2 separate regions of the Homo sapiens genome follow, and region 2 is linked to region 1. Evidence: fine-mapped expression QTL. Tissue or cell type: whole blood. Region 1 holds a variant in brackets; the other region holds the start of a gene. All regions are shown on one strand. Distances are between the middles of the regions. Region 1 holds the start of SNORA7B (small nucleolar RNA, H/ACA box 7B). Region 2 holds the start of EFCAB12 (EF-hand calcium binding domain 12).

The links. PIP is the estimated chance that this variant, and not a neighbour inherited with it, causes the effect.
Region 2: EFCAB12 starts here. The variant in region 1 is fine-mapped to the expression of EFCAB12 in whole blood (TOPMed, PIP 0.91).

Annotation. Positions count from the first base shown.
Region 1 is chr3:129,391,825-129,403,598 of GRCh38, forward strand. EFCAB12 (EF-hand calcium binding domain 12) reads right to left here. Exons shown (of 9, transcript NM_207307.3): 8 at 10,699-10,755; 9 at 9,497-10,027. The coding sequence ends at 9,769. SNORA7B (small nucleolar RNA, H/ACA box 7B) reads right to left here and starts at 5,524; the gene lies at 5,386-5,524. It also overlaps the pseudogene RPL32P3. RefSeq lists an enhancer at 2,892-3,588. The variant A/C (reference allele first, on the strand shown) is at 6,818.
Region 2 is chr3:129,421,079-129,432,732 of GRCh38, forward strand. EFCAB12 (EF-hand calcium binding domain 12) reads right to left here and starts at 7,558. Exons shown (of 9, transcript NM_207307.3): 1 at 7,362-7,558; 2 at 289-725. The coding sequence starts at 7,410. It overlaps MBD4 (methyl-CpG binding domain 4, DNA glycosylase), which reads right to left. Exons shown (of 8, transcript NM_001276270.2): 7 at 11,425-11,528; 8 at 9,869-10,500. The coding sequence ends at 10,423. RefSeq lists an enhancer at 3,463-3,512 and a silencer at 7,695-7,744.

The DNA.
Region 1 (11,774 bases):
AGGCCCAAACTAGGCGGGGACAGTGGCTGCTTTCCAAGCCCCTTCCCTTTGTCAGCTCCAGGGAGAACCAAAGGCCAGCCAGGGGGCCTGTCTTCTATTGGGTCCCAGCATCAGGGTATACAATGCGCTTTCCTCCCCTTCTTAAAATGTATCATATATTAGGCCGACCTAATACTCTGAAAGCACATTTACTCTGAAAGCAAATGAGGGAAAAAAGCGAGCTAATTGTTCAAGTGGATTTTTAGCATACATTGACTGTACTTTCCTGACACATGAGTGTTAATCATGGGGAAAGGAGTGCTTTTTTTGTTCTCAGTGAGGCTGACACAAAGTACTCTCCACAGGGTACATTATTCCTGAGACAAACCACTTCTTACCAGTAACATAGACCTGGGCTGTAAGTGCTCCCAGTTTCCCTTTTTGAAAAGCTCCACCTTTAAAAGCTGCCTCAACTCTGGCAAACTCCCACGTGTGTATTTTGGGTAACTACCCTGAAAAGAGGTGGTGTTCTGAGGCTGTTTCTCACACATTGTAGGGCCTGCCCAGAGAAGCTGGGCATACCGCTTCAGAGGTATGCTGAGGCCGAAGGAACACAGGCCCTAGGCCTGATCCCTGAGCCTCCAGGACCACAGCCATCTCTTCCTTCTCAGGTCCTCTCCTGAGCACCTTCCCTGCCTCAGATCCCCCCATGGCCTCCTGCTGTCCCACTGTCGGATCAGGTTCTCACCCCTGCAGACCTGACCTCAGCACAGGATCCCTAACCATTCAGCCGAGAAGCAACTAACCAGAGAGAGGTTTGCTTGTTATCTGTTCCAGGAAAGTAACTGGGGCAAAGACAATGTGATGATTCTCTAGTTCAGGGCACAGAATGTTTGCTGGTGACTCAGAGAGGGCATGGAGGGCACGGAGGGCCGGCAAACACTGTAAGTCATTTTGTCTGTGTAAGTTTAGGGGAACCCATGCTCAGCCTCACTCTGAAGCATGTGGTATCACCCATATGATCTGAATAAGATGACAGGTCTCGATATGTGGAACTGTGCACCAGGTTGTCTCATTGCTGTTTAGGAACAGTCCTGTATTTACCAAACTATGTGAGAGAGAGACAGCCTGATCATGAACCCCCGACCCTGCAGACTTCATGTGCAGTGCCCCAAATAGTCTAGAAAGTGTTGTTTAGCCGATGAACAAATGCCCATTTGTGAGATGGGAAGGAAGCACTGGGGGCCAGCGTCCCTGATGCTGTCCCAGGATCCCCCAGGAACACCTGCAGGGCAGCCTGAGATCACTCTTCCCGAGACCTGGGACTCCCCCAACTCAGCCCCTCAGGGCCGGGCCCTGCCTACCTCCTGGTTGCCTGCTTCAGCCATGTGGAGCCCGCCCTTGCTGCTAGAAAACCCTGATGTAACGCTGGCACAGGAAGTTCTGATCCAGAGTGTTTTTGTTTGTTGTGCTTCCTCAGGATTTCTTTGGATCTGGAGACCCCAAAGAAACAAAGATGCTAATCACCAAACAGGCTGACTGGGCCAGAAATATGAAAGAGCCCAAAGTCACCGTGGGGATGTAAATCTCAGCAGGAGAGCACGTCAAGGCCATTGAGATCTGTGGTGACTATGTCAGGGTTGACATGAAAGTTTCCGTCTGTGCCCTGAGCATTTGGCAGCATGTCATCACATGCCACCTCTTGGCTTTGACTGACAAGGAAACAAATCGTGCGTCTCTAAATATTTAAAGCAAATGTGATAGCGATTGGGTTCCTTGGGAGACACAGAGACTGCCTGTGTTTAGCACTCAGAGCAGGCCCCACACTCACCTCTTCCTTTAGAGGGCAGTCATTGAGGAATTCTCACGCCTTGGCCTCCACTTTTCTGTGTGAATTCCTGCACCCGTGGTATAAAGAGCGCTGGGCCACTTCCTGGCTGCTGAGTCTTGGGCTGGGTGCTTCACCTTCACCCCAGACATTATTCTTCTCATCTGCAAGATGGAAATAATCATGCCCACCTCTTAGGGACCCAAGTGACAGGGCTTGGGTATTTCGGCAGGCCTTTATCCTGCTTCCCCATGGCATGGAGCTCCTGGGCCTGGCACCCCTTCCCTGCCTGCCCACCCGGGTGGCCTTTCCTCTTGGCAGCCAGGCCCCAGGGGCCCGAAGCCAGAGTCCAGGGGGAGGAGGACACGTGCCTGCCCCGGCCCCTCGGGAGTCCGTGGCTGTTTTGTAGGAGTTGGTGCCCTTGTGCTACCGCTGCTCCACCAACAACCCGCTGCTCAACAACCTGGGCAACGTCTGCATCAACTGCCGCCAGCCCTTCATCTTCTCCGCCTCTTCCTACGGTGAGTCCCTGCATCCTGAGCATGTGGGTGGGACAGCCTGTGGACGGCTAGGCTCACTCCACTGCTCTCTGGCCTCAGGACATTGGGCAAGGGCCAAAGGCCTCTGAATGTCCCTGTTTATGAAATGAGGACACTCTGACACCCACCTACCTGACACAAGGAGTCACTGTCGGTGTTCCCAGAGATAGGACCCACTGCTGCCCAAAGCTGAAGCACCCACTCTGGGAACCTGGCGCAGGGCTTTACATAACCAAATGCCCCAGGAAGAGAGTCCGATGGCTTTGCATTCAGACCAGGAGGCTGAGATAGGTTTTCAAGGCCCAGCTCCTTTGATGTTGACAGAGGATCAGAAGCCCCTTCCCAGGAGCTGAGCAGAGGCCACACACACACAGAGACTGCCCCTGCACACACACACACACACACACACAGAGATTGCCCCTGCACATACACACACACACAGAGACTGCCCCTGCACACACACACACACTGCCCCTGCACACACACATACACAGATGGCCCCTACACACAGACTGCCCCTGCACACACACACACACACACACACACACACACACACACAGAGACGGCCCCTGCACACACACACAGACTACCCCTGCACACACACAGAGCTAGCCCCTGCACACACACACACAGAGCTAGCCCCTGCACACACACAGACTGCCCCTGCACACACATACACACACATACACACACAGAGACAGCCCCTGCACACACACACACCGACGGCCCCTGCACCCACACAGACTGCTCTTGCACACACACACACTCACACACATACACAGAGACTGCCCTTGCACACACACACACAGAGACTACCCTTGCGCACACACAGAGACTGCCCCTGTACCCCACACAGACTGCCCCTGCTGCCTCTGCTTGCCTATTTTTTTTTTTTTTGTATTTTTAGTAGAGACGGGGTTTCACCGTGTCAGCCAGGATGGTCTCGATCTCCTGACCTTGTGATCCGCCCACCTCGCCCTCCCAAAAGTGCTGGGATTACAGGCGTGAGCTTGCCTAGTTTTTTAAACCTGCTGTTCTTGTGCAGGCATGGTGGCTCATGTCTGTAATCCCAGCACCTTGGGAGGGCGAAGCAGGAGGATCACTTGAGCCCAGGAGTTCAAGGGTGCAGCAGGCCATCATCATAGCTGTTAATGGCCACTGCATTCTAGCCTGGGCAACAGAGTAGAAACGTCTCTAAAAACAAACCGTAAACACTACCTAGCACTAATGTCCTGTGACCCCTCCTTGCACTCTCCACCTTTGTGTAAAGTACTCTCTGTCCACAAAGTCTTCCTCTTATTCTCCCTCTAGTTCACATTTGGTTGTAAAGCCTCCGTACCCCTGAAAATACCCCTTACCAAAGCATAAAGGGCCTCTTAAAGTCTGAGGCCTATGTTTGATCTTCCCCAAATTCCCTCATAAATAAAGCAACATTCTGGAAACAACAGCCAAAAGATATTATATTGAAAACCGGTGATTACTGCTGTGTTCACTGTGTCAAGCAAAGTCCATTTTTCTGGTCTTGGGACTCCACAGCTATGAGGACAAAAGTCTCTCCCCTCTCCAACAAAGGAAACACACTGAACTCCCCAAGAAGCATTCTCTTTTTCCTTTTGGGATGGAGTTTCACTGTCGCCCTAGGCTGGAGTGCAGTGGCGCGATCGTAGCTCACTGCAACCTCTCCTGCTGGTTCTCCCACCTCAGCCTCCTGAGTAGCTGAGATTACAGGCGTGTACCACCACGCCCAGCTAATTTTGTCTTTTTAGTAGAGATGGGGTTTCGTCAAGTTGGCCAGGCTGGTCTCGAACTCCTGACCTCAGGTGATCTGCCCACCTCGGCCTCCCAAAGTGCTGGGATTACAGGCATGAGCCACCACACCTGGCCCCAAACAAGCATTCTCTAAACTCCTGTAAGGAATGACTTCACATTCCCTCAGAGAATGTCAGCTTCCCAAAATGCATCCCAAGAGTTTCCAGAGTTCCTGCCAGAAGTGCCCGCACAGATGCAAACTTCAGACCCCTGAAACCAGAGATGGACCCAACTCACTTGTTGCATATCAGCAGCACTCTCAGCTCCTTGACATTGTGGACCAGGAACTTCCGGAAGCCACTGGGCAGCACGTGCTTTCTGGTTTTTTTTTTTTTTTTTTTTTTTTGCTCCTATAACCAATGCTGGGCATCATATCAAGACCTGGCCCTTGAACCTTCTATGAACCCTGTTGTCAATGCCTCTGGGTTTCCACCAGTTACGCTGAAGGAAATAATACACAGGTGGGTTAGCATCTGTGCAGACTGCCAACTGTTCCATAGGGGAGGGAAAAAAGGACCAAATGAAAAGGAAGTATGCCACACAGTAGTTGCCTTTGGTAATAGGACTTCACTATTTCCTTACATGCTTTTTTGGTGGGAAAAACCAGGAGCTCGTGGCTTTTGCCACTAGGAAGGCAGGCACCCCCGCCATTCTCACTCCCAAGAAATGGAGACACCAATGGGATGCGAGGGGACTGTGTAGATATTGAGATGGCGAGCACAGGTGCAGACACTGCTCTCAGCACCTCTGAGTTTTCTTGTCTATAAAATAGGGATCCTGCTGTCATAAGGCAACCCAAAATACATGATACAAATGCAAAGCCCTCCAAACATATCAAAATGGCCAAGTGTCCCTTTTCATTAAAGTTTCACTTCACACATCAAGAGACGTAAGTACCAGCACTAGGGCACACTGGGGGAGACCTGTATTTCCACAGAAAGCTCTTCCACAAACCAGTTCATCGGTCAAAGGTAATCCTGACTAGGTGATGTCAGAACTGGCAGCCTGTTGGAAACTCCTTTCTTCACCCCACACCCATTTCCATCCCAGGACCACACACCTTGATTTTGACATATCGGTCTGACTGGTGCCGGATGAATTTCTTGGTTCTCTTTTTGACGATCTTGGGCTTCACAAGGGATCTGAGGGCAGCCATGATGCCTTTTGGGGAAGAAGTAGCCCCAGGTGAGGAAGAATCCTGGAAGGAGGCTTTCCCGCCCAGGGACTGAACACTGTCGCAGAGTGTCTTCCAATCACCAGCTACGGAGCAAGCTGGGAATGGAATGGGTGCCTCTGCCAGGCTTGCTTTCCCTCCCTTTCCGAAGCTGGCAGAATACTAGGCAGTCTCCAGATGCGATCCCAGGAGGTCAAGGGTCACCTCACCCACTCAGAGCCCAAAGAATGCCAACAGCTGAGCAAATCAAAACTGACCCCAAGACACTCTCAATTTGCAAGGGGCAGCAAATCCCACCCTGCCAGTGTCTGAACCCCCAGATGGTCCTTCCGGTAGTACTGGCCTTGACCATCTACTTGAACTGGAGTCTCAGTTTCCTCACCTGTAAAATGGAGACGACATTGTGTGCTGAATGCCTGCAGTACCTGTCACAGGGTAAATGTTCAATAAAGAAAACCTTCTAATTCCCTAGGTAGCAGCTGCGCTACCACACCCCCAACACACACAAAACCATCATATCCCTCTAAGGATGCCTCAAACCTGGAGATCTTCCATTATCAACTCACAACTTCCTCAGTGTGGTCTTCTGAGCCATTCATTTATTTCCTACAGCAGCACCCCTTCTGTTCTCTTTGCAGCCATCAGTTGGCACAGAGTGGGTACTCAATGAACCACGTATTCAAAACAACTTTGCCTTCTGGCCCATGATATCCTTGAAGGCAAGGGGGAAGTTTCATCTTTATATTCCCAGAGCTCCTGACGATCAAAATCTCTGTTAACAACTGAGTGAGCTGACCTGCACCCCATCTTTTTTTTTTTTTTTTTTTTTTTTTTTTTGCAGTCCCACCACAGCAGCCCTAGGGTCACAGGCTAGAAGGAAAGGAACGTGGGGTCATGGCAATGAATGAATGCACGTGGGCCAACATCAGTAAGCACGGTATAAACCGAAAAATAAATTCTAAGCCCCCCACCCAACTGAATGGACTCCTGCTCTTGGCCAAGGGCATTCCAAAGTTAACCTGAAAAACTAGTTCAAGCCATAATGGGAATGTGGGGTCGAACTTGCCTCATTATGCCCTTCTCCCTATGGAATTCAGGCACAGCTGACCAGCGTTAGCATTAAAAGAGATCCCAAGACTGACAAAACAGACTTTGTAGCAATAAGACACCAAATTTCAACCTGACTCTAGTATAGCATCACATGACAGATTGCAGGCCCTGAAAGAAACAGAAGTACTTTACCCAAAAATATATTTCTTTGACATATTCTGACATGGCCCTGTAAAGCTGTCTCTTGTGGGGACAATCTACGTCCTGTAGTGAATCCCCCTCCCTTTCCAGGTCTTCTCCCTGAGCCAGGAGAGGCTCCACTAAGACTTTGGCACCTTTTCAGGCCTGGTAAGAAACATTTACGATCTACTCTCTTTGAAGCCCGCTACCTGGAGGCTTCCTCTGCATAAATAAGAACCTTGGTCTCCACAACCTCTT[A/C]TCTGAACCCAGGCATTCCTTTTTGTTGATTCCAAGTCTTTAGACAAACTCAACCAATTGTCAAATCTACCAACAGCCCGGACCAGGCCCCCCAACACACCTCCCTAAAATGTACAAAACCAAGCTGCACCCCAACCACCTTGGGCACATGTTCTCAGGACTTCCTGAGGGCTTTGTCACGGGCCGTGGTCACTCATACTGGACTCAGAATAAGTCTTTTCAAATACTTTACACAGTTTGACTCTTTTCGTCAATAGACGCAAAGCCCAACCACCACCCCGGCTGCCTGCTTCACTCTGTTCGTGTACGCGCTCCAGCAAGCCGACAATACCCACAGACACAGAGTGGTAGGGAAGGCCTCCTTACCAGGGGACCATAGGGCCAGATGAAGCCTGCAGGAACGCAGATGGCCACGGATTAAGACTCACTCAGGCCGGGCGCGGTGGCTCACGCCTGTAATCCCAGAACTTTGGAAGGCCGAGGCGGACGGATCACTTGAGGTCAGGCGTTCCAGACCAGCCTGGCCAACATAGTGAAACCCACTCTCTACTAAAAATTCAAAAATTAGCCAGGCGTGGTGGTGGGCGCCGGTAGTCCCAGCTACTTGGCAGGCTGAGGCAGGAGAATCGCTTGAACCCCGGAAGCGGAGGCTGCAGTAAGCTGAGATCGCACCACTGCACTCCAGCCTGGGAAGCAAAGTGAGACTCTGTCTCAAAAACAAACAAACAAACAAACTCACCGAGCAGGAAAAAGAAGCACCAAGGAAGAGAGAAGGGATGAGAGAGCGCCGGGGCTGATGGGAGGTAACCTCTGGGTCCTGACAGGGAAAAGGCAAGCACTTCCGGCTCCGGGTCCTTAAAAAAAAGACATGTCAAAGAAAGAGTGCTGCAGAAATGCCGAATTTAACTGTTTTAATAGAGAGTAATATCTAAGAATGTAAAGGAAAATTTATCTTACCTGCCCTTGGCACTAGTTAGAAAGTTGGAATTCTTTCTGAGTTGAGACCTGGTGTAGGGAGGAATCTACTTCCGCCAGAAGTTGAAGCCAATCTAGCGTTTGGGCTATTTCCGCCCTTGTTTCCTCTACTCCGAAGTGCGCTTCCTAGCGGTCAGGAGAGATCAAGACCGACTTCCCAAAATTCCCTCACTGAATTTACATAGTAAATAGTGATGAGACCGGAACCGCTAACGTACGATGGGCCTACCACAATTCTATAATGTAACCTATTATTGTCTCTATTTTGCATATGTGGAAGGAGAATTTTGGAGATTTTACTCCAAGCTCCACGCTTCTAACCATTAGTCTAAACTACCTTGCTTTGTTTTGTTGGTTGTTTTGTAGAGTTATGGTTTTACTATTTTGGCCAGGCTGGTCTTAAGCGATCTCTCGCCTCAGCCTCCTGAGTAGCGGGGATTACAAATATGAGCCATTGTTCCCAGCTACTGTCTAATTTTTAAGCTTGTTCTTGATTTGCTTAGCTTTTTTTTTTTTTTTTTTTTTTTTTTTTTTGAGAGGGAGTCTCACTCTGTTGCACAGGCTGGAGTGCAGTGGAGTGGCAAGATCTCGGCTCACTGCAACTTCTGCCTCCCAGGTTCAAGGGACAAGGGATTCTCCTGCCTCAGGCTCCGTAGTAGCTGGGATTACAGGTGTGCGCCACCACACTCGACTAATTTTTTTTAATTTTCAGTAGAGACAAGGGTCTCACTATGTTGGTCAACCTGGTCTCAAACTCCTGACCTCAGGTGATCTGCCCACCTTGGCCTCCCAAAATGCTGGGATTACAGGCGTGAGCCACCGCGCCCAGCCCTTAGCTTTTGTTTTTAAGATTATTTTGAAAATCAAATTTCAGGAGGAAAAAAACCTCCTAGATTCCACTCCTGGAACACAGTACAGATGTCACTGGCGATCTTGACAGGGATAGTTCCAGGGACCAGATGGGGTCAGAAGCTAAACTGGATTGTATTGATGACTGAATGAGAGAGAGGTGAGAAGGGTGTGTTAACAACTCCATGGTGAGATTTTTGGGTGTGAGGAGAATGGGGAGTTTGAGGAGACCCAGAGAAGTGGAATGTCTGAGGTCACACAGCTGGCAAGCCGTAGTGCTGGGGCTAGAACCCTGCTGCATCTGTGGCTATTCCACACCTCATGAATCTTGCTTATCCTGCAGGCTGTATGTAGTGAGATGGGATGCGGAGCAGGGAAGCACATTACTAATGGCAGCCTGAATGATGCCTGTCATGAAAGAAAAGGTCTTGATTGGGTCAAGTGGGTTCATCAACTGGGAGGGTTCATGAACCACAGAGCCTGCCTTCAGTTTCCAAAGACCCAAGAGATTTGGAAGCAGTAACCTGATGGCTCAGTCTTTGTGGGGTACGGGACATGCTGCCACCTCACTTCACAGAGGAGAGTACGGGGTACCCACACTGCTTCCCTGTGGGCACTGGGGTCCCAGGACAAGAGGCTGGAGGTGGCCTGCAGTCATCCCTGGAATAGCCCAGGGAACGTACCTGTATTCCCCCAGGCTCAAGGTTTCCCCACTGGGATCCCGGGACAAGAGGCTGGAGGTGGCCTGCAGTCATCCCTGGAATAGCCCAGGGAATGTACCTGTATTTCCCCAGGCTCAAGGTCTCCCCCCGGTCACAGCTCCTGAGCAAGAAATCACATCAGCTGGGTCACAGGTGAAATGAGAAAAACTCCAACCTGCTTTATGTAGAAAGGGCAGAGGTCAGGGGAGGGAAATAGTCAAAAACTGCACGTCATTCCTTGGACACATCTACCCTCTGAGACACTGGACACTTTGAGTCCAGAGGGAACTGGCCCCCGGTCCATCCCTCTTTGAAAGGATTTCTTTAGTTTGACTCTTTGACACTCCTCTTGTGTCTGGGCTCTGGGCCGCTGGCTGCACTGGCCCCTGGCCCAGGAAGGCTGGGTCCGGCAACACCTGGCTAGCTCTAGTTGATGTAGTACACCTTGGCGGCATCATAATGGGCGTGGGTCATGTAGTTCTTGTTCCTAAGGGGCCACCAGTGGTCAGGGTGGTAGGTGGCTGGGTAGACATGGGGCTGGTGTTGAACACAACTGAAGAGCGCCAGGCTCCGGTCTGTGGCCACAGTGGGCAGGTAGAGCTGCAGCTTATCCAGAAGATGACCCGGCCAGAAGGAATTGGGGTGTGTTTGCTGCAGACCACTGGACCTCTTCACCTTCAGCTTCCTGGAAAACAAGAAGACACAGGGATGGTTGTCATGGCAGACAGGCCAGAGCTGAGGCTTCATCGCAGAGCCCACCAACTGTGACCAAAGTGGAGATTTAGCACTGTGCCAAGCACTTCAGCACCTCAGTCCTCCCCACAGTTCCATATGGTCAGCTCTGTTATCCTGTCGACCTCACCTGTGAGGACCCAGAGGCCTGGGGAGGCCGTCGCACACTGAGCAAGTGGCCAAGTGCAGGCTTCATTCCTTGTCCAATGCCTCTAAACTCAAAGTCTTAAGCGCGAACCATCTGTTATCTGGAGGCATTTTAATGTGGTGTTTGGAGTACGGCCCCTGCAGCCACCCTAGCTGGGTTCAGATCCCCACTGCATCACTTCGTAGATGTGCGACTCTGAGCATGATATTTACCCTGTCTGTGCCTCAGTTTCCTCCTGTGTAAAATGAATATGCTTAGTGTCACTTCGTAGGGCTGTTGGGAGGATCTGAGTGAGTGAACACATGGAAAGCCCCAGAGCAATGCCTCCTGGCCCTCTCTGTGTTGTGTCACTGCCTCTCAGGCCAGGGCACCGAGCCCCAGCTGTTGTGCCAGGAGTGCAGAGTCCCAGTTGTCTCAGGCGAAGCTGCCCCTCCTCCCACCTTCCTTCCTTGTGGAGTTAGATGATTGCCACAGACCTGGTAAATTCCTCAAACTCCTTAAAGCGCATTTTCTTGCTTTTCTTTGGCGTTTTCCTAGTGGAGAAGAGAGAGGCATTTTGTGAGGAGAGTGGAAATCCAGGCCAATGGGGCTTTAGGGAGTAGGTCAGGGCCGCAGGGGTGGACCCGTTTCTAAGTCTCAAACGAGAGCTCTGAAAGAAAAATGTCTTCCACCTGGGGTGGACCCTGACTCTGTGCCTCCATGCTCCAGGGGAACACAGTGGGCTTGGGTCAGCTGGACCTACCCTCAGAATCTGGCCAGGTGACCTGGGCAAGTCACTTCCCCTTTCTCATCCTTGGTTTTCTCATGGTCCAGAATAGAGACCTCTCAGGGTAGTTACGAGGGAGGCTCAGTAAGTCACTGCCAAATCCTTTTGGGGTCCCTGGCTCCTACTCCCCACTCCAGAGCTTAACCCAGCCCTGAGGACAAAGGTGGTGAAATCTAACCCCCTTCCCCTCCAACCCTGAGCCTGACAGACATCACTAATCGTTCACGGCACTCTTTCCCACCCAGCCTCCATCAACCATAAGTAGCAAGATACAGTCAACGTCTCTCCTTGACCTAAGAGAACTCTCTTTATCCTTTATTAGCTATGGCCTACCTAAGCATGGACCAAAATCCCCTTCCTGGGTTCCCAGCCACTTCCTGGCCCACCCCGGGGCTGGAAGGAAGTCACAGCCCGTGTCATGGCCAGGACCCACCTGCAGGCCTGGGCCTACTCCTGCACTTGAAGATGCCCCAACCAGAGCAAGGTAAAACAACGACAATCATTGATTGAGTGCTGTCCCTGCTAAGATGTTGACACTCTTTCTCATCTGATCCTCATAGTGTATGGTAGGAGCTACTAGGCCCCTTTACATATGAAGATGCTAAGACTCAGAGAAGTGCCTTGTCCATTTAACCGAAGGCCTGTCTGATCTCTACAGGGCCCTGCTGTGTCCCACTGCAGGCATTCTGGCCACACACCCAGTGGGCAGCTGGCAGGGGTCTAGAAGCAGGGGCAGGTCCAGGCCCCTCCCACCTCATGGTATCCGGCCAGCTGGGCTCTCCTCCT
Region 2 (11,654 bases), 29 kb after region 1:
GCAACCTCATGAGAGACTCTGAGCCAGAGCGACCCAGCAAAGCTACTCCCTGATTTCTGACTCTAGAAACGGTGTGTGATCATAAATATTTGTTGCTTTCAGTCATTTGGGGGTGTTTGTTATGCAGCAATAGATAACTAGACAACTAATACACCTCCCTCTCAAGACTTCTGTTTGCTCCTCTGTGAAATGGTGTGAACTATCCCTATCCAGCCTAACCCAAGGGAATAAAATAATGATGCATCCCTAAACCCTTGGTGTCTTCATCTGGCAAATGGGGCTGCTCACCCTGGTGGTCCTGGTAGTTGCCTGGGAGGCATTTGGCTGGGCACTCTGCTCCTCGTGGATCATGTGTAAGACCTTGGCCTCTGAAGGCGTGATGCTGGGCTTGTTCTCCAGCCACCTCTTTACATCACCAAAGGACTCTAGCTCCTGCCGCAGCTTCGACCTCTGGCTCAGCCAGGTCTTCCTGTCCTCTGGCTGCTCTTGGATATCTCTAGCTTCCAGAACTTTGAAGCTGGGGATGGGCTTTGGGGGAGCCTGAGGTTGGGATGCAGGATTAAGGGGTGTCTGATCCTCCTTGCGAGGCACCATGATGATTCGCCGGCGGGTCTGAGGCAGGCGGAAGTCCTTCTGCTGGAACTGCTTGAAGCAGTGGGCAATGACCGGTTCAGGATCAAAGACGGGAGCATTTTCATTGATGGGAGTCTTAGACGGGCAGAGTCCTTGGGGTAAGAGAGTTAAAAGATGAGTTTCTCTCTGGAAGAGGACTGAAAGGAGCCAGGAAGGAAAAACACTTTTGCTCCAGGCTGGGCAACAGGGCCCTGGATCCCAGGCCAGGCTTTATCATTGTCTTGCTGTAATCGTAAGGATAATTTCATCTAATGTTACCGGGTGCTCCCAACAGCAGGCAGCAAGCTAAGGGCTCTATATGCTTTCTCTTATTTCATCTTCTCCATACCCAGCCCCCAACACCTCCCATTGGCAATCAGAATGAACTTTTAAAGATGCCAGTCTGATCTTGTGTGATCATCTGAGGCAGCACAGTATTAAGAGCAGAGGCTTTGGGGCCAGAACGTTCTTCGGTCTGAGTCCTGGCCCTGCCACCTACTGGCTGCATGATCTTGAGCAAACCACCTAACTTCTCTGTCTCAACCTCCTCATTGGTAAAATGGGCATAATGATGGTAACCTATTTTATCGGATGGGAGTGATGTTAAAATCAGTCAATTTATTAGAGTTGCTTTGTACATAATATATCTGCTATTATTGGTATATACTCACCATGCACTCATTTTGAAGCCCTTCCATGACTTTTGATAACCTTAAAATGAAGTCCCGGGCCCCTCTTCTGTCAACCTGTCCCCCTAATCCCTTGCTTCTCTTCCCTTACTATGTCCTGGATGCCTGGGCTTCTCTCTGTTTGCTGAGTGGTCCAAGCCTCATCCTGACTAGGGGTTGGCACGTGCTCCTCCCTCTAGCAGGAGTGCTCCCTCCCCATCCACACCCTGGGCACTCTTCCTTATCCTCCAGGTCCCATCTTTGCATCACAACCTGCACTTTCCTTCAGACCACTTATCACGACTGGGTACAACAAGGGCTGAAAACTGGTGGCCCTCATGCTGAATGAGGGCTGAGGTCTTGTTTTGTTTGACAACTTGCTTGATATTTTTCAATCTGAGCTACTTTGGGCTGAGGCATTGCCCTCTCCAGCTTGCCACAGGCTCCCCCATTCCTTTTTGTCTCACAGGCAGCTCATTTTCTTTATTAAGTCCTCGGTTTGGGCAGCAATTTGCCTTTGAGACCCCTGGTGCAATTATTTGGTTCATGTTTATTTTTTCTAGTAGACTATGAGCTCCATGAAGACTGTAACCCTATCTCTCTTGTTCCTGACTGGAGCCCTGACACCTCCACAGTGTCTACATATAATGGGAACTCAGTAAATATTTGGTGAGTGAAAAATGGACAGACCTATGATGCTGGTACTATGATTATGCCCATTTTGCAGATAAGGACATTGAGGCCTAGAGAGGCCCAAGGTCACTCAGTTGATTAGTAGCAGAGCTGAGACATGAACTTCAGTTTGTCTGGCCCCAGAGCTCGGCTCTTAGCTGTTACTTGATATTACCCAGGGCTGTCACCCAATCCTGCTGAGTCTCAAGTATTTTACTTCTGAAATGATATAAACTCTGCTCTATCTACCTCTTGAAGTTGTTATGAAGATCAAATGAGATAACAGTTTGGAAGTGTTCTAAAAAATCAGAAGGGGCCAGGCATGGTAGCTTATGCCTGTAATCCAAGCACTTTGGGAGGCTGAGGTGGGAGGATTGCTTGAGCCCAGGAGTTCAAGGCCAGCCTGGGCAAAATAGTGAGACCTCATCTATACAAAAAAATTTAAAAACTAGCCGGGCATGGTGGTGCACGCCTGTAGTCGCAGCTCCTCAGGAGGCTGAGGTGGGAGGATCACTTGAGCCTGGGAGGTCAAGGCTACAGTGAGCTGAGATTACCCGCATTGTAATCCAGCCTGGGCAACAGAGACCCTTTTTCAAAAAAATTTAAAAAAATCAGAAGGGATATAACAATCTTATTGGAAATACTGTCACTGTCATTTTCCTCCTAAAACCCAAACTCCCTTGCTTAAAACCTGTCCATGGCTCCTAACTGCCTCTAGAGTAAAGTTCAAGCTCCTTAACCTGGCCCCACCTGGTCCTCTCACCCCTACCAGCCTCTCCGATTTCTCTGGCTCCTTCTGCCTTCCCTTACGTTTGTATCCAAACAGATCTGCCCCACCAACACACACAAGCCATGCTGTTTCCTCCCTGTGACATGCTCTTCTCCCTCCCTGCTTCACTTCTTGATCCCTGACTCACCCTTTGAGACTCAGCTCAGGCATCCCGGCCCCTTGAAGCCCTCCCACTCCCCTTCTCATGGGCCCTCTGGGTCCCATAGCCCCCACACTTAGTCCCATCATAAGCATTTACCATATTTTTCTGAAATGAAGATACTTTCTGCATCTTTCTTTCCCAACAGCCTGTGAGTTTCCCAGTGACCAGGACTGTGTCTTAGTTCCCCTGTGTCCTCGGTGCCCAGCCTGGCCCAAAGTGGACATTCAGTACATTTGTTAAGTCTCTTTACAAGGCCCATGTGTTCCTTTCAGAGTCAGCAAATAAGAAAAGTAAACATCATGGTATGGTTTGCATCTGTGTCCTTGCCCAAATCTCATGTTAAATTATAATCCCCATTGTTGGAGGAGGGGTCTAGTGGGAGGTGATTGGATCATGGGAGAGGACGTCCCCCTTGCTGTTCTCATGAGAGCGAGTGCTCACAAGATCTGGTTGTTCAAAAGCATAGCACCTCCCCCTGCTCTCACTTCCTCCTTCTTGGGTTATGTAAGATGTGCCTGTCTTTGCCTTCTGCCATGATTGTAAGTTTCCTGAGGCCTCCCCAGCCATGTTTCCTGTACAGCCTGAGGAACTGTGAGTCAATTAAACCTCATCTCTTTATAAATTACCTAGTCTCAGGTAGTTCTTTATAGCAATGCTAGAACAGATATTACACATCAATAGGGATGGAAGCGAACACTTCTAAACAACACATGTATCATTACTTTGACCACAAGAAAGTTCATTCCCAGCAGGGGATGACTGAGAATGTAGTCATTCATCAAATCAGTATTTATTGAGAATCCCCCAGGGCTTGGTGCTGAACCAGGTGCAGATTAAACTAGGCTGGGCACCTACCGTGGTTCACCTGTTCTCAGTCCACCCAATGGAACAAGGTGGGGCACCCAGAGGGTAACAAGATGTTCTCAGTTGGGGGAGAAATGCTGACTGTGGGACCTGGGAGGGCATCAAGGAAGAGGTGTCTTTGATGTGGACCTTCAAGAATGGTCTGGCTTCATGGGGTGGAGGGGCAGGGATGGGGAAAGGTCAGGAGTGGGATTTGGGGATTTTAGGGTCACCAGACAGTTCCACATGTTGGAAGCCCACTGTGTGTAAAGGAGGAGGTTAGTGGGAAATAAGGTTGGCGTCATCTCAAATGCCAGGCTAAGAGATTGAAACTTTACCCTGCAGGCCACGGGAACACAAAACCTGCTCCCCACAGGTCTTGCTGCTCCCATTTGGGTCCTCCCTAGACCCCCAATCCATGTTCTGCCCTCAGCCAGGAGAGCCTTACAAATGTAAATTCACAGTCTGTCCCTTCCCCATTTGAAACCATTCAATGGATTCTTAGTGCTCTTTGAATAAATACCCGCCTCCTTCTGTGGCCTACAAAGCTGCCTTCACTGGCCCTGCTCCCCACTCTTCCCTTGTCACCTCCCAGCCCCCGCCCCCTCACTCATGTGGTCCCAGCTGCTGTCCTCCTTTCTGTTGTCTGAGGTGCCTTGTTCCTTCCTGGCTCTGGGTTTTCAGTTTTTGCATTTGCTGTGCCCTCTGAAGAGCACTGCATTCCCCAGGGCTTCCCCTGGCCGAGTCATTCTCCTCACAGTTCTAAACCTGCACCAGCCCCTGACCCCACTTTCCAAGGGTGCCTGCCCACCAAACCTCCTCAGGGAGCTTCATTCTAGTGCTCTTTGGAGTCCTGTGTCCATTGACAGAAAGGGAAATGGGCTCTTATAATAAAAGAGGCTGTCATTGTGTAGTTATGGGTAGAGACTATGTGACAATGTTCCTAGGAAATTGGCAAGGAAAGCTCTCAGACGCCAGCTAGTTCAATCACCTGCCCAGGTCAGGGACACTCTCCTCAATGCCACTGGCAGACTTTGCCTCTGTTTATACATCTCCTGTGACGTGGAACTTTCTACTTAACATGGTGGACACTAAACTCTGACTGCTAGAAAATATTTCCTTATATTGACCCAGAATTTGTTTCCCTGGACTTTCTACCCTTTGGTTCTAGTCCTCCCCATGGATGTCCCAGAAAACACACTTGTTCTCTCTTTTCTCAGACAGCCTATAGGTGTCTGGAAACAATTCTACTCTTTCTTGAAATTCTCCCTGCTCTTGGCTTGATTCAATCTCTTGCTATGTCCAATTCTACCTCTCCGGCTATTGTTTTTGGGCCCCTCTTTTCCTGATTACTCCTTAAAGGTTGTTGCTTCCAGGCTTATACCCAGGGTCTCTTCTCTTTTTAAATAATCCCTTCCATTCTCATGTTTCTATGACCTTCTGTATGCTGGGGACATCCATACCAATATTTTTGACTTGGAATTAGCTCCAAGTTTATACCTCCAGTTGTTCCTAAAACATCTCCACTTGGATGGCTTACAGGGTTTTTTTTTGTTTTTTTTTTTTTTTTTTTTTTTGAGACGGACTCTTGCTCTGTTTCCCAGGCTAAAGTGCAGTGGCACGATCTCGGCTCTCTGCAAGCTCTGCCTCCCGGGTTCACGCCATTCTCCTGCCTCAGCCTCCCGAGTACCTGGGACTACAGGTGTCTGCCACCACGACCGGCTAATTTTTTGTATTTTTAGTAGAGATGGGGTTTCACTGTGTTAGCCAGGATGGTCTCGATCTCCTGACCTGGTGATCCGCCCACCTCAGCCTCCCAAAGTGCTAGGATTACAGGCGTGAGCCACGGCGCCCGGCCGGGGATCTTTTTTTATTATTTATTTTTAATTGAGACAGGGTCTTGCTCTGTTCCCCAAGCTGGAGTACAGTGGCTCAATCATAGCTCACTGCAGCCTTGAACTCCTGGGCTCAAATGATCCTCCCAGCTCAGCCTCCTGAGTAGCTGGGACTACAGGTGCATGCCATTAAGCCTAGCTAACCTTTTTTTTTTTTTTTTTTTTGAGATGGTGTCTTGCTCTGTCACCCAGGCTGGAGTGCAATGGCATGATCTTGGCTCACTGCAAGCTCCACCTCCCTGGTTCATGCCATTCTCCTGCCTCAGCCTCCTGAGTAGCTGTGACTACAGGCGCCTGCCACCATGCCCGGCTAATTTTTTGTATTTTTAGTAGAGACGGGGTTTCATTGTGTTAGCCAGGATGGTCTTGATCTCCTGACCTCGTGATCCACCCACCTCAGCCTCCTAAAGTGCTGGGATTACAGGCGTGAGCCACCCCACCAGGCCTGGCTAACTTTAAAAAACAATTTTGTAGAGATGGGATCTCACTATGTTGCCCAGGCTATTCTCAAACTCCTGGGCTCAAGCAATCCTCCTGCCTCAGCTTCCCATAGTGCTGGGATTACAGGCGTGAGATACTGTGCCCAGCTACTGACAAGGATCTTAAACTCAACCAACCAAGACTGGATTTGTCTTTGTGCCCCTTCCCCCACTAACTGGGTCCTCTGAGTACGTTCTCTTATCTCTGTGGAAGACATCTCCATCTACCAGGTCCCCCAGCTGCCAACTTGAGAACCATCTTTATTTGCCTCTTCTGTGTTTCCTGACCAACCAGCCCCCAAGTCCCGTAGTTCCCTCTAGCCTGGGCCTTCTCCCTCACCTCCCAGCATCTTTAGCTTGGGCATTTGACCAGAGCCCTGACCTGTGTGCCTGGGAAAGGTGGCCAGCCTCTCCAGCTCTCCCTGTTTCTCCACTGGGCATTAATGTGTTCAGTGCTGGAGAAGCGGCATGGAGAAGACCTTCAGTCTTCAAGCTTTATAGCCCCCAGCTCTCATCTCCCCACACCAACATTCTGAGTCTGCCAACTCAGTCTCAGGTCTTTTCTGACTGCTCCCAATCCAGTCCTGCCACTCCCAGTGGCCTCTCCATCTCCTGGCTTGCAGTATCTTTTATGATCTTGTCCCTTCTGACCTCTCTCACCTCATTTCCAGAGACACCAGACCTCTTGGGTCATGCTGTTTCCTTGCCCGAAATGCTTTTCCTTCCCCTTTTGGCTTGGAGAACTCCTTTTTATCCTTTAAGCTCCAGTGTAAAGATCTTTTCCAAAAGCTTGGAACTGTTCCTCCCCATCCCATACCCTCAGCACACCTTTTACTCCTGGGTGTCATCCCTGGGCCCGGCATTTACCCCTTCTTATTCTGTAATTATCCATTTATCTCTGTCCTTTACCCGTGAAGCTGCATTGCTTTGCCAAGAACTTGGTCCCCAGCACATTACTGCCAAAACCTTGAAGACTGACGTCTTCTCCATGCCTCTCCTCCAGTACTGAATACATTAATGTCCTGCAGAGAAACAGGGCGAGCTGGAGGGCTCCCGTCACATGGGTCGGGCCTCTGGTTCCTCCAACTAGGCTCAGATAGAAATCTCAGAAATGTACATGACCTGCCCCCGACTCCATGGCAACCCTTCACCCAGAGGGGGTCGGCACAATATCTGTGGCTGAGTTTTTGCCCTCACCCCACTTTCACGCGTCCTTAGGGCGCTGAGCGCTCCCTGCAGACGCTTCTTCCCGGGGCTTACCGAGCAGCGACAAGAACAGACTGTGGTACGCTTCATAGTCGTCGTCCATGGTCGTGGTGCTGGGAGGGGGTGCTGAAGGGCGTGTGTGAATGTGTGTCGATGTGGGCTTGCTTGCGTAGGGGTACCGGGGTATCAGATAAACCGTAACTCCAAGTCGTGCGAAAGGCGCTCAGCTCAGACTGCAGAAGCAACCTGTTGCCGTGGCTACGGACGCCCCGCGCCAATTGGCTGAGCGCTGTCACGTGTTAAGAGCGAGCCCGCCCTGCCGAGCGCCTGCTGGCCCCACCTCGTTTTCGTCCAATTCTGGGAGGGGCAGCGAGCAAATCCACGCCCCGCCCAGTTCTGGGCTTGGTGAAAGGCGGGATTTCTTTGTTCGGCCCAGTAGTCCCTGAATCCAGTGTAGAAAGTCTCCGGTTTTCCCGTGAAATGTGGGATCTTCCGCAGGTCTCCATATCTCTAGGCCTCAGTTTTCTCATAGGAAAAATAGGCCCTGCCTCCTCCAGAGGGTTAGGAAGAACCAAAGTGAGCTGTGGCCAGATAGAGGTGTTGGGTATGTTCTGCCCCGCTTATGGCAGGGTGCCATGGTTTGGAGTTACAGAACCTGAGGACCAGAGAATAATAATAAACCCTTGAAATGTGCATCAACTGATAAGCAAAATGAGGTATATCCATAGGATGGCCATAAGAAGGAATGAAGTACATGCTACAATATGGATAAACCTTCAAAACAGTATGCTAAGCAAGAAGCTAGACACAAAAGGCCACGTGCTGTATGATTCCATTTATGTGAAATGTTCAGCATAGACGAACCCACAGACACGGAAAGTAGATGAATGGTTGCTAGGGGATGGGGTGAGTAATTGAAGTGACTGCTAACAGGTGGAGAGATTCTTTTTGGAGTGGAAAAAAGAAATGGAAACTTCTGGAATTAGTGATGATGGCTGCACACTGTAAATGTACTAAACCACTGAACTGTACACTTTAAAATGGTTAAATGGTGGCTTTTAGCTCAATTTTTAAAAAGTTAAAGAGAAACACCTAAGCCCTTATTCCTTTGCTGAGACAAGCTATCTTTGTGACGCTTGCAAACAGATTGTTGCCATGGGCCACATTCACACAGCACTCTTGCAAGCCAGGTACCATTTTAGCACTACATGTCTGAACTTCATAATTACCATCATTGTGTGAGGTAGACACCACTATCCCATTTTTAAAAGACAAGTTAACAGGTACAGAGGTCAGGCAACCTCACCTGCAAGAAACAGGAAAAGCCAGGCCTAGAGCCTGAGCAACCTGGCTGTGTCCTGAGCTCCCCTGGTGCAGAGCTCGCCTCCTGCATTCACACGGGCCCACACTCCCCATGGAGATGCTGGGGGAAGGTATGTGACCACCAGCCCTACCACAAAGCCACACCTGATGCCCTGAGCTTGGTGAGCTCGCCCCACCCTCCAGGCCCAGCTGGGCCCAAGGTTTCAGAGGCCCCTCTCCACCCTCTTTGGGTGTCTTGTCCCTACTCCTTACCGCTTTTGTTCCCTTCCATTATTAGGTGCCCTTCTTTCTCTCTGTGAGGGTCTGTACAGAACTTGTTTATCTTTGTGCCCCTCCCCACCACAGGGCTTTACACTTTGTGAATGCTACTTGGATGTTTGTTAAATGAAAATGTGATGGTAAACTATAAAGTGGGTTTGCCTTGGGGAGAGGGAGGTGTGGCCAGTTTTCCTGTTCTCTGGTCAAAATCTATCCTTCTAAAAACTGACACTCACTAAAGTGGAAACAACCAACTACCTCTGCATCACACTGCAGCCTGATTCGGTTCACACTGCCCTACAACAAAGGCAGTTTCCTGAACAACTGATTTATTTTTCATTTATTCAATCAATTTAATTTTCAAATTATACCTTAAAATGGTAGTTGGTAATTAAGACATAGTAACTAGTTTTTTCCCTTGGTTTCTTTCTAATAGTAAATGCTTTGGTATTTGAACTGTAACAATACTTGTAATAAAAATGGCATTAAGACTTATTTTTTTTAAGACAGGGTCTTGCTGTGTCATCCAGGCTGAAGTGCAGTGGTGTGATCATAGCTCACTGCAGCCTCAATCTCCTGGGCTCAAGGGATTCTCCCACCTCAGCCTTCTGAGTAGCTGGGACCACAAGTGTATGTCACCATGCCCAATTAATTTTTAAAATTTTTTGTAGAGACGGGGTCTCATTATGTTGCCCAGTCTGGTTTTGAACTCCTGGGCTCAAGCAATCCTCCTGCCTCAGCCTCCCAAAGTGCTAGGATTACAGGTGTAAGCCACTGTGCCTGGCCAAATGGTATAAACTCCAAATGGAAGATGAGAAATGAGTTTTCACAAAGGGACCAAGGTAAAAGAGTGAGTGAGCTGAAATGGAGCAGCAGGCCCATATTCACATTAGGTTATCAAATGGATACTGGGGTGGAATCTACAATTCCTAAGAGCTAGTGTGGAGCTGTCAACAATACACAATGCCAGAGGAATCTTATTTGTCTTTGGGGTCAGCTTTTATTTTTATTTTTTAAATATATATTTTTTGAGACAGGGTCTCTCTCTGTCATCCAGACTGGAGTGCAGTGGCATGATCATGGCTCACTGAAGCCTTGACCTCCTGGGCCCTCATGAGCTCAAATGATCCTCCTGCCTCAGCCTTCCGAGATTACAGGCATGCACCACCACGCCTAGCCGATAAAAATATTTAGTGGGCCCCTAGCTTTAGCAAGGCTGATAGAAATTTGCTTTGTATTATTGATAGTTTAGAACTATTTTTCATCTTCTGATTATATTTCATCATTGGAAAAGCCGTATTTTTTTTGGATTGTTGTCAAATAATAATTTATTTTAAAAAAATCTCAAAACATGTTCAAACACATTCAGTAGCAAAGATCCACCATTGGCACACACATTAAGAAAGCACACACACTAGGCTTCTAGTTGGGCTAATTAAAATCTCTATGGCTGGAAAGGTGGTTGGTTGTACTTAATTAAGCTTTTTTGAAGTGCAAAGCTATGCATAACAGATGAGCTTGAAAGCTGCAGAGTTTAAGATAGACTTAATTTTTCATGATTTTCCCAAAGCCAGTCATGATATTTATTTAATTTGTGGTCTTCAGGGTGCACCTGGAAGAAACATAAGATACAGAGGCAGAGACCTTAATGTAACTTAGTCAGAAATACATTTTTTAAAATTGGCTTTTTAAATGTTTGCTGGGGGACAGTACATTACGATACCATACCTAAAAGTTATAACCTTTAACCTCCTGGGATTCATGAATATTTTAAGTTATACCTTATATTAAGGTAATCTCACACAATTTACAAGGTACTGTCCAAATTACTACTCAACCATGACTTAGAATGTGGGGTGGCGATAACATGAGTCAAGTATTAATACCTCACTTTCCAGAAGGAGGTTCTAGACCGAGAGGTTAAATGGATTCTCAGGTCACAATGGATTGCTCTGATGAAGCTGGGATAGGACCATGGTCCTTCAGTTCAGGCTTGGCCAGACCTACTGGCTGAATGCATGAGGGTGAGTCTCAAGCTGAGTGGGCAGCATACCAGGCCACCCACCAGCTGCCAGGATGACCACCAGCATGCCACAGGCTGGGCATATTCAACAGGGCTGAAGCAGGACCCAGTCACCACAAACGTAGTCTGAGACCACTAAGAGAAACCCAATATGCATACATTGCAGGCCCAAACCTTCCTGCTTTCCTGTAGTGGTGTACTTTTGACAGGAGGAAAACCACGTCAGGCTTAGAGATAGCACACAAATAGGGAATGACAGGAACAGGGCCAGAGGTGACAAACCACTGGAGATGAGTCAGAGGCCACGCCGCTGGACTGGTCTTTGTGGACTTGGGAGCGCCTACTGATCAAAAACCCCAAAACCCACATGCCACCCGCTTCCCCGCAGCCAGGAACACAATTGTTTGTGACTGTAATAGCATTTGTATCCAATAAATAGTCTTAACCATAATGGTGGACTTATTTTGCCTCAGAGACCAAATGTGCTGAATTATGGATGGGAGTGAGCCTCACCTGCTTCCACTCATTGACACAAAAAATTCGGTAAGAGTCGTTGCCATATTTACCAATCCCATGAAGCTCAATTGGATACTTCCACTGCTTTGTCAGGTATTCATCTGAAGAATACAACATCCCACATTATCAGGTCAGCTTCTAAAGACACCCTCCCAAAATGTGTGGTGATGGGGCAGGATGGAGAGAACAGCAGAAAGGGACAGGAAAGGCTCTTTCCCAGCAACCCC